Homo sapiens: one gene and its partners. The protein of the gene in region 3 interacts with the protein of the main gene of each other region in a pairwise test. Each region holds a gene or a part of one and is shown on either strand. Other genes may lie near its edges.

The links.
Region 1: the proteins of RAB31 (region 3) and MPP3 interact in a two-hybrid assay, tested with the Homo sapiens proteins (one large-scale study listed by IntAct).
Region 2: the proteins of RAB31 (region 3) and MAPK6 interact in a two-hybrid assay, tested with the Homo sapiens proteins (one large-scale study listed by BioGRID and IntAct).

The regions. Positions count from the first base shown.
Region 1 is NC_000017.11:43,812,627-43,816,183, forward strand, and holds part of MPP3 (MAGUK p55 subfamily member 3), read right to left. Parts: intron 3,454-3,557; coding exon 3,412-3,453; exon of another isoform or gene 2,954-3,411; intron 2,018-2,953; exon of another isoform or gene 1,736-2,017; coding exon 1,571-1,735; intron 1,466-1,570; coding exon 1,385-1,465; intron 1-1,384. UniProt on the Homo sapiens protein: Participates in cell spreading through the phosphoinositide-3-kinase (PI3K) pathway by connecting CADM1 to DLG1 and the regulatory subunit of phosphoinositide-3-kinase (PI3K). Stabilizes HTR2C at the plasma membrane and prevents its desensitization.
Region 2 is NC_000015.10:52,043,182-52,046,738, reverse strand, and holds part of MAPK6 (mitogen-activated protein kinase 6), read right to left. Parts: intron 2,962-3,557; exon of another isoform or gene 1,075-2,961; intron 910-1,074; 5' UTR 279-909; coding exon 1-278. UniProt on the Homo sapiens protein: Atypical MAPK protein. Phosphorylates microtubule-associated protein 2 (MAP2) and MAPKAPK5.
Region 3 is NC_000018.10:9,809,280-9,812,836, reverse strand, and holds part of RAB31 (ras-related protein Rab-31), read right to left. Parts: intron 1-3,557. UniProt on the Homo sapiens protein: The small GTPases Rab are key regulators of intracellular membrane trafficking, from the formation of transport vesicles to their fusion with membranes.

The DNA of each region.
Region 1 (3,557 bases), on a different chromosome or scaffold from region 3:
CTGCCTCTGGGAAGGCTTCCCTGACTCCCCCAGTTTCTAAAACAAAGGAGGAAAGTCTCCTATCTGTGGAGTGCCTAGAAGCAGGTGGGCCTGACCATCCAGGTACCTCTTCTCCAGGGGGTGGATCCAAGGGGTTCTGAACGATCAGTGTGTGAGCAACCTCTGCATGTCCTGTTTCAGTCCACCTGAAACTTGGAAGGCCGTGGCTCCCTGAAGCCCTCCAGGTCCATCACAGGTGTGCTGCCAGGATGGCCTCCCCAGGGCCACCACCTCCCCCACATCCCTGCCACTTCAGATTGGGCTGTGGAAGACAGCTCTGACAACCCACAGACTAGACGCTGGGCCCAGGGGCCCAGGGAGAGCGGTGTGATCAAAGCAAGGCTTCATGGTTGCTCTGCCCCAGAACACTCTGAGGAGGCCCCATTAGGGCCCCCACAGCACCCCTCTCAGTAGCCACCAGGCATTCACACTGCATCCCTCTGAGGCCAGGGGGACTGAGAGTGAGTCCCAGAAAGAAAAGGGGCAGCCAAGGGCACGAAGTGGGAGGCGGCAGGTGAGAGGCCATTGTGCATCCTCGTTAAGAACATGACTGGGGCAGGCTGCCTGGGTATGAATCCTGGCTCCACCACTTACCAACTGTGTGACATTGGACAAGTTACTTAACCTCTCTGACCCTCACTGTCTTCCTCTGCCACACAAGATGATAACAATCTCTCTTCTCAGGGGTACTGGGAGGGCTGACGCAGGGCACTACACATAAAAGCTCTTGGTGCATTACCTGGCACCTTCATTCTCCTCCTCCTCATCCTCCTTATCACATTCAGAACCAGGATCCTCTGCCCACTGGAGCTTGACATCCCAGGGTGCCCCTGGCAGCAGTAAGCCCCAGGAATTGGCAGGGGAGGCATCACCCAGGAATGTACCCAGCTACCCTGACAAACTGGAATCTGGCTATAAGGGAGTGCCGAGAAATACCACTCACAGGGCTCTGTGGCTTCTCTGACCTGCCCTCTCATCCAAGCAGAGGGCAGCGGCCACAGGAGTCAAAATTCACTGTGATGAGGAGGAATGCCCCCTACTGTGGGGGCCCCGTGGTGTCAGGTTGAGGCTGCCACTTTGCCTACAATGTGCTCTGGACTCATCTCCCACCCCAGGCAGGAACCAAGCAAGTGGTCCTCCAACTTCTGCCTCAGAGGGTCTCAGAGGACCACTGGGAGTGGATTTCTTCCCATCATGCCTTTGTCCCACAATTTGCCAATAGCAGGCAGTGCCTGGTGATCCTTTAAACCCAAAGTAAGGATTTGGATGGATCTGGGGAGTTAAGTCTCCATGGAATATTTGTGTGTGTGCAGACAAACACACACTCCCACATGGGCCCTCTTACGTGGAACAGCGACGCCAAAGTGCTGTGGGTTCTCAGCCACCACCTTTTGCTTCAGCTCGTGCAGTCGGGCTCCCAGAGACCCTGGGAAACAAGAAGAAGGCTGACCAGGGTCCCTGCTGAGCTCCCTCCCCACCTGCTCCAGGGAGGAAACCAGATCACTTCCTGGAAACCCAGGATGGCACCTACCGATCAGAACCACCAGGCGGGGCCGCTCTCCGGGCTGGTGTTGGTACCTGGCCACCTCTTCGTAAGTCAGCAGCTCCGGAGACTCAGCTCCGGAGGACATCTTTCCTTCCTGCGAGCCACCCAGTCTCTCCCTACAGCCCAGCCGGAAGCTCCTCCGAAGACCAGCTTGGGAGGAGGGGCAGAGGGACACCATGGCATTTGTCCCAGTTGTCCCAGGATCTCCCAGTAGAGACTTTTCCCACCTGGCCAGACCTGGAGATGGGACTGAGTCCCACTGACTTCTCCCAACCTCCTCCTGCTACTGGAAGAGGTTGTTCAGGAAATACAATAATAAGATGAAAGGGTGACCCCTGCATTCACAAACTAGGGCTTAAGGTCACTGTTTTACTTGGCATGTGACTGACCTTGGACAAGTCCCTTCATCTCTCTGAGCCTCAATTTCCTTACCTGTGAAATGAAGATATGAATCTACAACTACTATGTGTGGTCCTAGATTAGATCCTGGACCAAGGGAAAATGTCATAAAGGACATGATGGGGACAATTGTTAACATTTAAATAACAGCATATAACAGATTTGGATACATTTTAAATTCTCAGAATTTGATCACTGCCCTGAGAAAGTCCTTGGCCTTAGGAAATACATGCTGAGAGATTTAGGGTTAAAGGGACACGATGTCTACAACTAAGTCTCATATGACTCAGGAAAAAAAAATTCAGAGATGTGGGAAAGGAAATTGAGCAAACATGGCAAAGGAGCAACTGGTGAATCTGGGTGTGGAGTATATGAGAGTTCTTTGTATAATTCTTACACCTTTTCAGTAAGTTTGAAATTACTTCAGGACAAAAGTTAAGGGGCTGGGTGCAGTGGCTCATGCCTGTATCCCAGCACTTTGGTAGGCCAAGGCAGGCAGATCACTTGATCTCAGGAGTTCAAGACCAGCTGGGCAACATGGTGAAACCCTGTCTCTACAAAAAATACAAAAATTAGCCAGGTATAGTGGCATGCACCTGTAGTCCCAGCTACTAGGGAGGCTGAGAGGGAAGAATCGCTTGAGCCTGGGAGGCTGAGGCTGCAGCGATTTGTGATCACACCACTGCACTCCAGTGTGGGTAACAGAGCAAGACCATATCTCAAAAAATAAGTTTAAAAAAAGTTTAAAAACTTTTTAGAAAGGAGGATTGCTTGAAGCCAGGAGCTTGAAACCAGCTGGGCAACATAGCGAGACCCCATCTCTACAAAAAAAATTTTTTTAATCAGCTGGGCATGGTGTCAGATGCCTGCAGTCCCAGCTACTCAGGAGGCTGAGGTGGGAGGATTGTTTGAGCCTAGGACATTGAGGCTGCTGCAAGCTGCAATGTCACACACTACTGCACTCCAGCGTGAGAGACAGGGCAAAACCCTGTCTCTAAAAAATAACCAAAAAACAAAAAAAACTTTTTGCCTATCTCTAAGACCTTTGAAAAAACTGACCAAAACAAGTGAAAAGGGGCTCTGGAGAGCCGCAAACACCCCTCACTGCGTGGTAGTGGTGTTAATATTGAATAAACTCCAATTGCAATGATGGTGATAATAGAATTGGTATTAATGTAGGGGTGTGTGTGCCTTTCCCGCCAGGGCAGTGTGCCCCACAGCTGGGTAAAAGCTGGGTGGGGGCCCAATGCCTGGGCAGGCTCAGCTCCTGCTTGGGTTGAGAGAACTGAGGAGAGATGGGGGTCCCATAGGCTCCACTGCTCCAGAAGGACTCCTGGGGCTCAGATCACCCTGCTTTGACCTCTCCCTAACTCTGGGGCCTTGGGTGGGGCAGGTCGTGCATGTGGGTGTCAGGGGGAGCTACTTACCCACATAGTGCCCTTTGAGGTAGCCCTCACAGTCACAGGTCTCTGGGAAGCAAACAGAGGGAGGGAAGCCAGTGAGTCCCACCAGACACATCCGGCCCAGGGCACCCAGCCCCTGGATGGCCAGGCAGGAAGAGCCCCCTGGGATG
Region 2 (3,557 bases), on a different chromosome or scaffold from region 3:
TCTGTTAATTGGCTTCCACTGGGACCAAGAATCTCAAACACTTTCACAATGTTATCATGGTCAAGTCTTCTAATAATTTTGATTTCACGTAGAGCATGTTTGACACTCTGGGGATCAGTAAGGACAATTTTCTTGATGGCTACTCTTTTGTCACAGTCATTGTCTACAGCAGAAAAAACCAAGCCATTGCCTCCACAACCCAATGGTTTTAAGTCCATATACCTAGAACCCAGATCAAAACCATGAATGTTCATGAGACTTTCAAATTTCTCTGCCATTTTGAAACCCTTACTATTGCCTTTTCCTTTCAAATTGAACTTGTGTAAACAAGGAAGAAAACTGGCATCAAAAGGAAAGATCTTTCAAAAAGGGAGAAGAAAAATAATTATGCTTCCACAGCAAGATGGTTTCTTGATGTTCATTGCATATGCCAAACAGGCCTGTCGAGTTCCCCTTAGATTTAAAGCTCAAAAAGCTCTATTCATATTGAGAATTAAAAAGATTGCAGTACTCATAGTTCAAGAAAGGGGCAGCAACTCTGCAGACATTTAACGAAAACAAGAAACTCAAACGGAATGAAATGACATACTGTGCACTCAGATTACCGTGCTAAACGATTTAACATTTAACAAAAATGTGAATAAATATGCACACAACAGGCTTCTATGAACATTCTCCTCACAGTGCAGATACATTCAGTGTTGGACTGGTCCTGAGCAGCATCATTCTAAGGTGCTGGTAAGCACTATTTCCGTTTTGCTTCTTTTTTTCCTTTGTTGCTATATATTTATTTCAACAGGAAGCCCTGGCGGCTGTTGGTTAACAGAAGATGTCTTTTGTTAGTGATCAGGTGGCTCCAGCTCACCACAATCACAATCAAAGCTACCGTCCATCTTACTCTGATACAACCTGGGGGGATGAGAAAAAGAAGAGAGTCACCATTGCAGGAAATACTCTTTTCTTCAAATTTGTAGTATGACACAAAGTAGGCATTTAGCAATAAACTACTACTGGTACATTAAACTTAATTATGGTCATTAAGTGACAAATTACCCTTAATCAAAAATAGCTTACAAAAATGTTATCAGCAATTCACACACGTTGGCCCGGGCTCCAGATTTCACTACACTAGATTCTTGGTAACAGGCTCATTAGGTTGTACCATTTCTGAAATGCCAACAAGTATGGGAAGGTTCATAATATTTTTATAGAACTTGAGTTTTGTGAGGGGTAAAACGTTAGTAACATCTATCTAAATATCTAAAAGAATATAGAAGAAGCCTGCAATGTGTTAGTTTGTTAAAAAGCATGTTTACTTATTAACTATGCCTATCAATATCCAATGAACAAAAATCTAACAGCACAAATATGCAAATAATGTTCTTCAACTTATAAGAGTAAACTTGAACAATGAATAATACCTATGAAAAGGTATTTAATGTGACTGATAGGAAAAGATTACCTTAAGAGAACATTTCAGATTGAAAAAACATGCATCTCTGTTAATGTCAAGTCTGAGGAGTGTAGAAAAACAAACTTTCACACAATAGTGGTTGGAGTTTAAATTAGTAAAAACTTCAGAGCAATTTGGCATAAACATATAAATGAATAAATAAATAGCGTACTCTATGACCCGGCCATTTTTCTTCACAGTAAACTCCCTAGAGAAATGCTCATTTTTTTTTGGTAAAGAAAATTAGAAACAACCTCAACTTCATAAAATAGGAGAACAGATAAGTAGTTATATGCATGCAAAATAGTTTTTTTTGGTAAGTACATATGTATATTGCAAAACTAAAAAAAAAAAAAAAAGGAAAAAAAAATGAGACAAATACCAAATTCATAATGATTACCCGGAGATTAAGGAAAGAGACCAGAATCATTTATCTGCGTTTTAATGTGTTATTTATTTTAAAATAACAAACATGGCAGATTACTAGAATCTTATAGAGCTGGGTGGTATGTATATGAAGGTTCATTATATTGATCTCTGTACACTTAAAATATTTCATACTTTAAAAAATATCCTATAAAAGGGCAGGAAAAAATAGCCTCAACTCCAGTAGATGGTTCCCTAGCCAGCCTGGAAAAAAAAAAATGCAACTTGGTTCTTTCAGTTTCTTAATGGCCTAATTGCAGAGTACCCAGAATACCAGATATGAGGCATTATGGAAAATCAGGTGGTCAGAATTCCTAACAAATAAGACCAGACAATATTTTAGGCAGAAAGAATAAAGCCACCAATTTATTCGTTTAATATATAAACATATATTGAGCAACTACTATATGCTAGGCAGGAGCAAACCTGATATGAGCAAAAGGATTCTGGCCCTCAGTAAACGCAACTCATTGTCCAATAGGAGAAAGACAGCTTTAATAAAAACTGATACTTACTATATCCCTCAGTTCTTTTAATAAATAAGAACGGGTCTTGTATCTGCTTAATATCATGAAGGATACTAATAGTATAATAGCTTTATTTTACTGTAACAGAAACGGCTTCTCCTGTCTACAAGTTTTTCTCTGCTTCTCAGAAATCAGCCCTCCTAGCCCGCCCCCCCAAAAAAAAAGTCCTAAAAATTCTGTAGCTTACCAGTCTATCTGTAATAAAACACTTAAAAGTTGAAGTTTGTGAATAAACTTTTGAATTAAAAAAATATCTCAAGGCCGGACACGGTGGCTCACGCCTGTAATCCCAACACTTTGGGAAGCCGAGGCAGGCAGATCACGAAGTCAGGAGTTCAAGACCAGCCTGGCCAATATGGTGAAACCCCGTCTCTACTAAAAATACAAAAAGTAGCCAGGCGTGGTGGCGCATGCCTGTAGTCCCAGCTACTCAGGAGGGTAAGGCTGGATAATCGCTTGAACCAGGTAGGTAGAGGTTGCAGGGAGGTAGAGGTTGCAGTGAGCCGAGATCCTGCCATTGCACTCCAGCCTGGGGGACACAGCGAGACTCTGCCTCAAAAAAAAAAAAAAAAAAAAAAAAAAAAAAAAAATCAAACAACTTAAGTCCAACATATCATTTGCTATTATCTAGCTGAGCCATTAGTCTGTCTTTGGTCTTTAGCCAGTGGATTTTCAATGTTGTTATATGATCTAGCTCATGTGATAGTGGAAATAAGTAATAAAAATAAATTTTTGTGGCCAGGCGCGGTGGCTCACGCCTGTAATCCCAGCACTTTGGGAGGCCAAGGCAGGTGGATCTCCTCAGGTCGTGAGTTCGAGATCAGCCTACCAACATGGAGAAACCCCGTCTCTACTAAAAATACAAAAATCAGCCCAGCGTGGTGATAGGTGCCTGTAATCCCAGCTACTCGGGAGGCTGAGGCAAGAGAATCGCTTGGACCTGGGAGGTGGAGGTTGCAGTGAGGTGAGATCACGCCACTGCACTCCAGCCTGGGCAAAAGAGCAAGATTCCGTCTCAAAAAAAATGAATAAATAAAAAATAAAAATAATTTTTGTATTGGTAAAAAAGTTTCAGATTTTTAAAAAGGGCTTTAATACTGCATGTCTCCCTCCCACCAAGTTTTTTCTGTTTGTACACATCTTGATTCTTC
Region 3 (3,557 bases):
AATCCCAGCTACTTGGGAGGCTGAGGCAGGAGAAATGCTAGAACCCGGGAGGCAGAGGTTGCAGTGAGCTAAGATTGCAAAACTGCACTCCTGCCTGGAAGACAGAGTGAGACTTTATCTCAAAAAAAAAAAAAAAAAAAAAAAAAATAGTATCCTGGAGGGGTTTTGAAAGTCAATAAGAAAAAGATGGCTTAATAGAAAAATGGACAAAGATATATATAAAGGTAAATCACAGAAGACATATACATTGCCAACAAATATTTTAAAACATGTTCAATTAGAATCGGAAGAACACCAATAAAAATAAGGAGACACTTATAAATTATTAAATTGTAAAAAGATTTGTGCTGTTCAGTGTTGGTGTGGGTTTGGGAAGGGAGGCACACATACTCTACATGGAATGTGCTGAATATCTTCTTTCAAAGCAACTGTTGGTAATATAATCAAAAGTTGAAATGTGTGTCCCATTTGACCCAGCAATTCCACTTAGAGGAATATATACTGGAGTGACCATCACACGCAGGAAGACACATCCCTGCGCTGTTTATGGGAGTAAATGGGAATTGACTCATGGTATAATGTTATGAACTGAATGTTTGTGTCTCCCCTAAAATCCATGTATTGAAACCCTAACTCCCAACGTGGCGGTATTAGGAGGTGGGGCCCTTAGGAGGTAATTAGGGTTAGATGAGGTCACAGATGGGATTAGTCCCTTATAAGGAGAGAAGGAGACCAGATCTCCCTTCTCTCCCTGCCCTGCCCCTATGTGAGATACAGCAAGAAGGCGAGTATCTGCATACCAGAAAGGGGGCCCTCACAGGCACTGAATCTGCCAGCACCTTGATCTTGGACTTCCCAGCTCCCAAATGGTAAGAAATCAACGTGTGTTGTTTAAGCCACCCAGTCTATGTTATTTTGTGCACAGATTAATACATATATGTATGTAATGATATTCTATAGCCATTAAAATGATGATTTTTATTTATAGGAAAAGAGATCTTTGACATACTGTTAGATGAGAAATAGTCTCAAAACAGCACATATAGCATATAATTTATCATTTATTATGTGGTTAATTTATCATTATATGATAATATAATGTAGGGTAAAATGTATGTGGGAGTATGTCTCTGTGAGCAGGAATAACACGAGGTTCCTCTAAATCTTAACAGGTGGGATTTCCAGCGATTTTTACATTTTCCTTACAAGCATCTGTATAGCATAAATTTTTACAATGAGTTTTAAATAATATGGTTTTTAAGTTTTGAACAAAGCAGCTGTTTTTATTGGGCAGTGGGGAGAGAGCAGGGAGGAAGGAGAAGTGGATCCTGAAGCTTTTCTGGCAAGCGACAAAACCCTAACTTATTATTTTCTTTCCCACGATACTCATCATTGGATCAATACTTGCCAAACTGAAATGATGGTATTTGGAAATCTGAGTCCCCAGGTTTCCCTGTTACTGCACTGAGGAATGCTGGTGAGGCACTCACAATAGTGTGGAAAGGAAGTGGGCCACCCTCCCTGCCTCCAGTCCCTCCATGCAGGTCTCCATCCTGAAGAGAAAGGACTCTGGAGCCTCTGCGGGTTTCAGAAAAGGGAGAAGGTTGGACGAAGCTCAGGGTGAACCAAGGAGTTCACAGCTGAACTGTGCGGTGGCCGAAGATGCTGAAGGGCCGGCGCCACCCACTGCCCCCATTCCAGAACGCACTTGGGGACAGCGACATTTGCCATGCATGCCTTTCCGTACTCACTGACGGCCCAACACTGTGTTTGGCATAATTATTAGGCATCCATAAATCTATTTTTAACCCACCATTTGGCAATCTACTCCTTACACTTAAAAAACAAAATCAGAATTCCTGCCCAAAGGAAGGAAAAAGCAATAATTTTTTTTAAACATTCCTACTTTTCAAAGGGTAAGGACCGCAGATTAAGTATCCTTTTACCCCAATTATACAAAATGCCCATTTTTTTCAAAATAGCCTCCATATAAGAGTGGTTCATGTAAACGCACAAAGTAGCAGTCAATACAAACTTTATTTCCCAAAAGTAAAGATATTCATGGACTCAAGCTCAAAGAGGAGCAAACTGCGGGTGTCTTCTAAGACAGAGAGAGTTCACTTTAGGCTAAAACACCATGAACTGAATCTAAAACGGTCACTGGCATGGAGGTCTCATGAATTATTGAAGCGATCTTGGTATATAATGCATTACTCATTCTTTCCTTCCTCCAAATGGAATCGCTTTGAAATAAATCTCTGTTGGTGAAGCCACTTAAATGACTTTATTGCTGGGGACTTGAGGGTTTTAATGAGTTAGAAGTTCACGTCTCAGTTCCAAAACCCAATAATGCATTGACCAAAGGGTGATCTTGGTGGAGGACAAAAAGATAAATCACTTCTAGTCTACAATGTTTATGCTTTTCCCCCTTACAAATAGAAAGCAAAAGCACCACAATCAGCCTCAGTCCTCAACATGACATAATTCAATTCCTGTGGGGTCAGAAATAAGACTGATGGAATGCTCACATAAAAAGATTCTTCTGGAAATAAAGTTCACAGTCACAAGAGGCTGATAAAGCTTTATTTTTACATCTTACCTTGAAAGGTTATTTGAAAATTAGCACAACAGATGCCAATTCAAAATCCCTTCTTCCCTGACTACCCAGCAAAACATCTAGAAGACCAAATTAAAATGTTGAGAAATTTTTCAGATGTCATTCAATTATTTAGAAACGGCACAGGGAACTGTGAAAACCCAGTGTGTCTCCTCAAAAGAAATAGCTGTTTATGTCCTTAGTGTGTGTGATTATTTGTTTTCTAATTGCTGGAGGTCCCTGTGGCAGGGGAGACGGGAACGGCCTTCTTCAGGCTCTTGGAGCTTCTCCGGCTGCTCAGCTTTCGCAGATGGACATTAACCCTGCCCGCAGCTGGTAGAAAATAAACGAGCATGACCTTTCTGGAAAGCAGCTGGACAATGTGTTTCAAGAATCTTGCAAATGTTCAGATACTTTGATTTGACAATTCCACCTCTTAAGGGAATAATCAGAGATGGTTACAAAGTAACCAGAATTCCTTTGAAAATTATCAATGATGCTGAAAAACTGTAAGCAATCTCAATGTCTAACAATTAAAGAATGGACACATAAATTTTGGCTTAGCCATATGATGGAATATCCAGCAGCAATTAGACTTAGGTGTTTGTAAAATATTAAATGGCACATGAGGCAAGACAGCCTAGTGTGGTATTTTCCTGAGGGTCTTCTGCAGAACACCAGGCCACGTGGAGGTGGCCAGGAAAAAAGGTTTCCTGGCCAAATAAGTTTGAGAAACACCACATGCTTCCCTGGAGGTTTACAAAGCATAATTAGTGCATTAAAGGCTCTGAAAATTTTCTACAGTAAAGAAACCTATTTATTTTGGTTTTAGTTCAGAATTCCCATTCATTTTTAAAATCTTTTTTTCAAGTAGTATTTATTAACATCTAGGGACCTCGCGTGATCAAGAATCACCTTTGGGGAAGTGAAGAGAACTGGACTCAAAGAGAGTCCTGAGGCT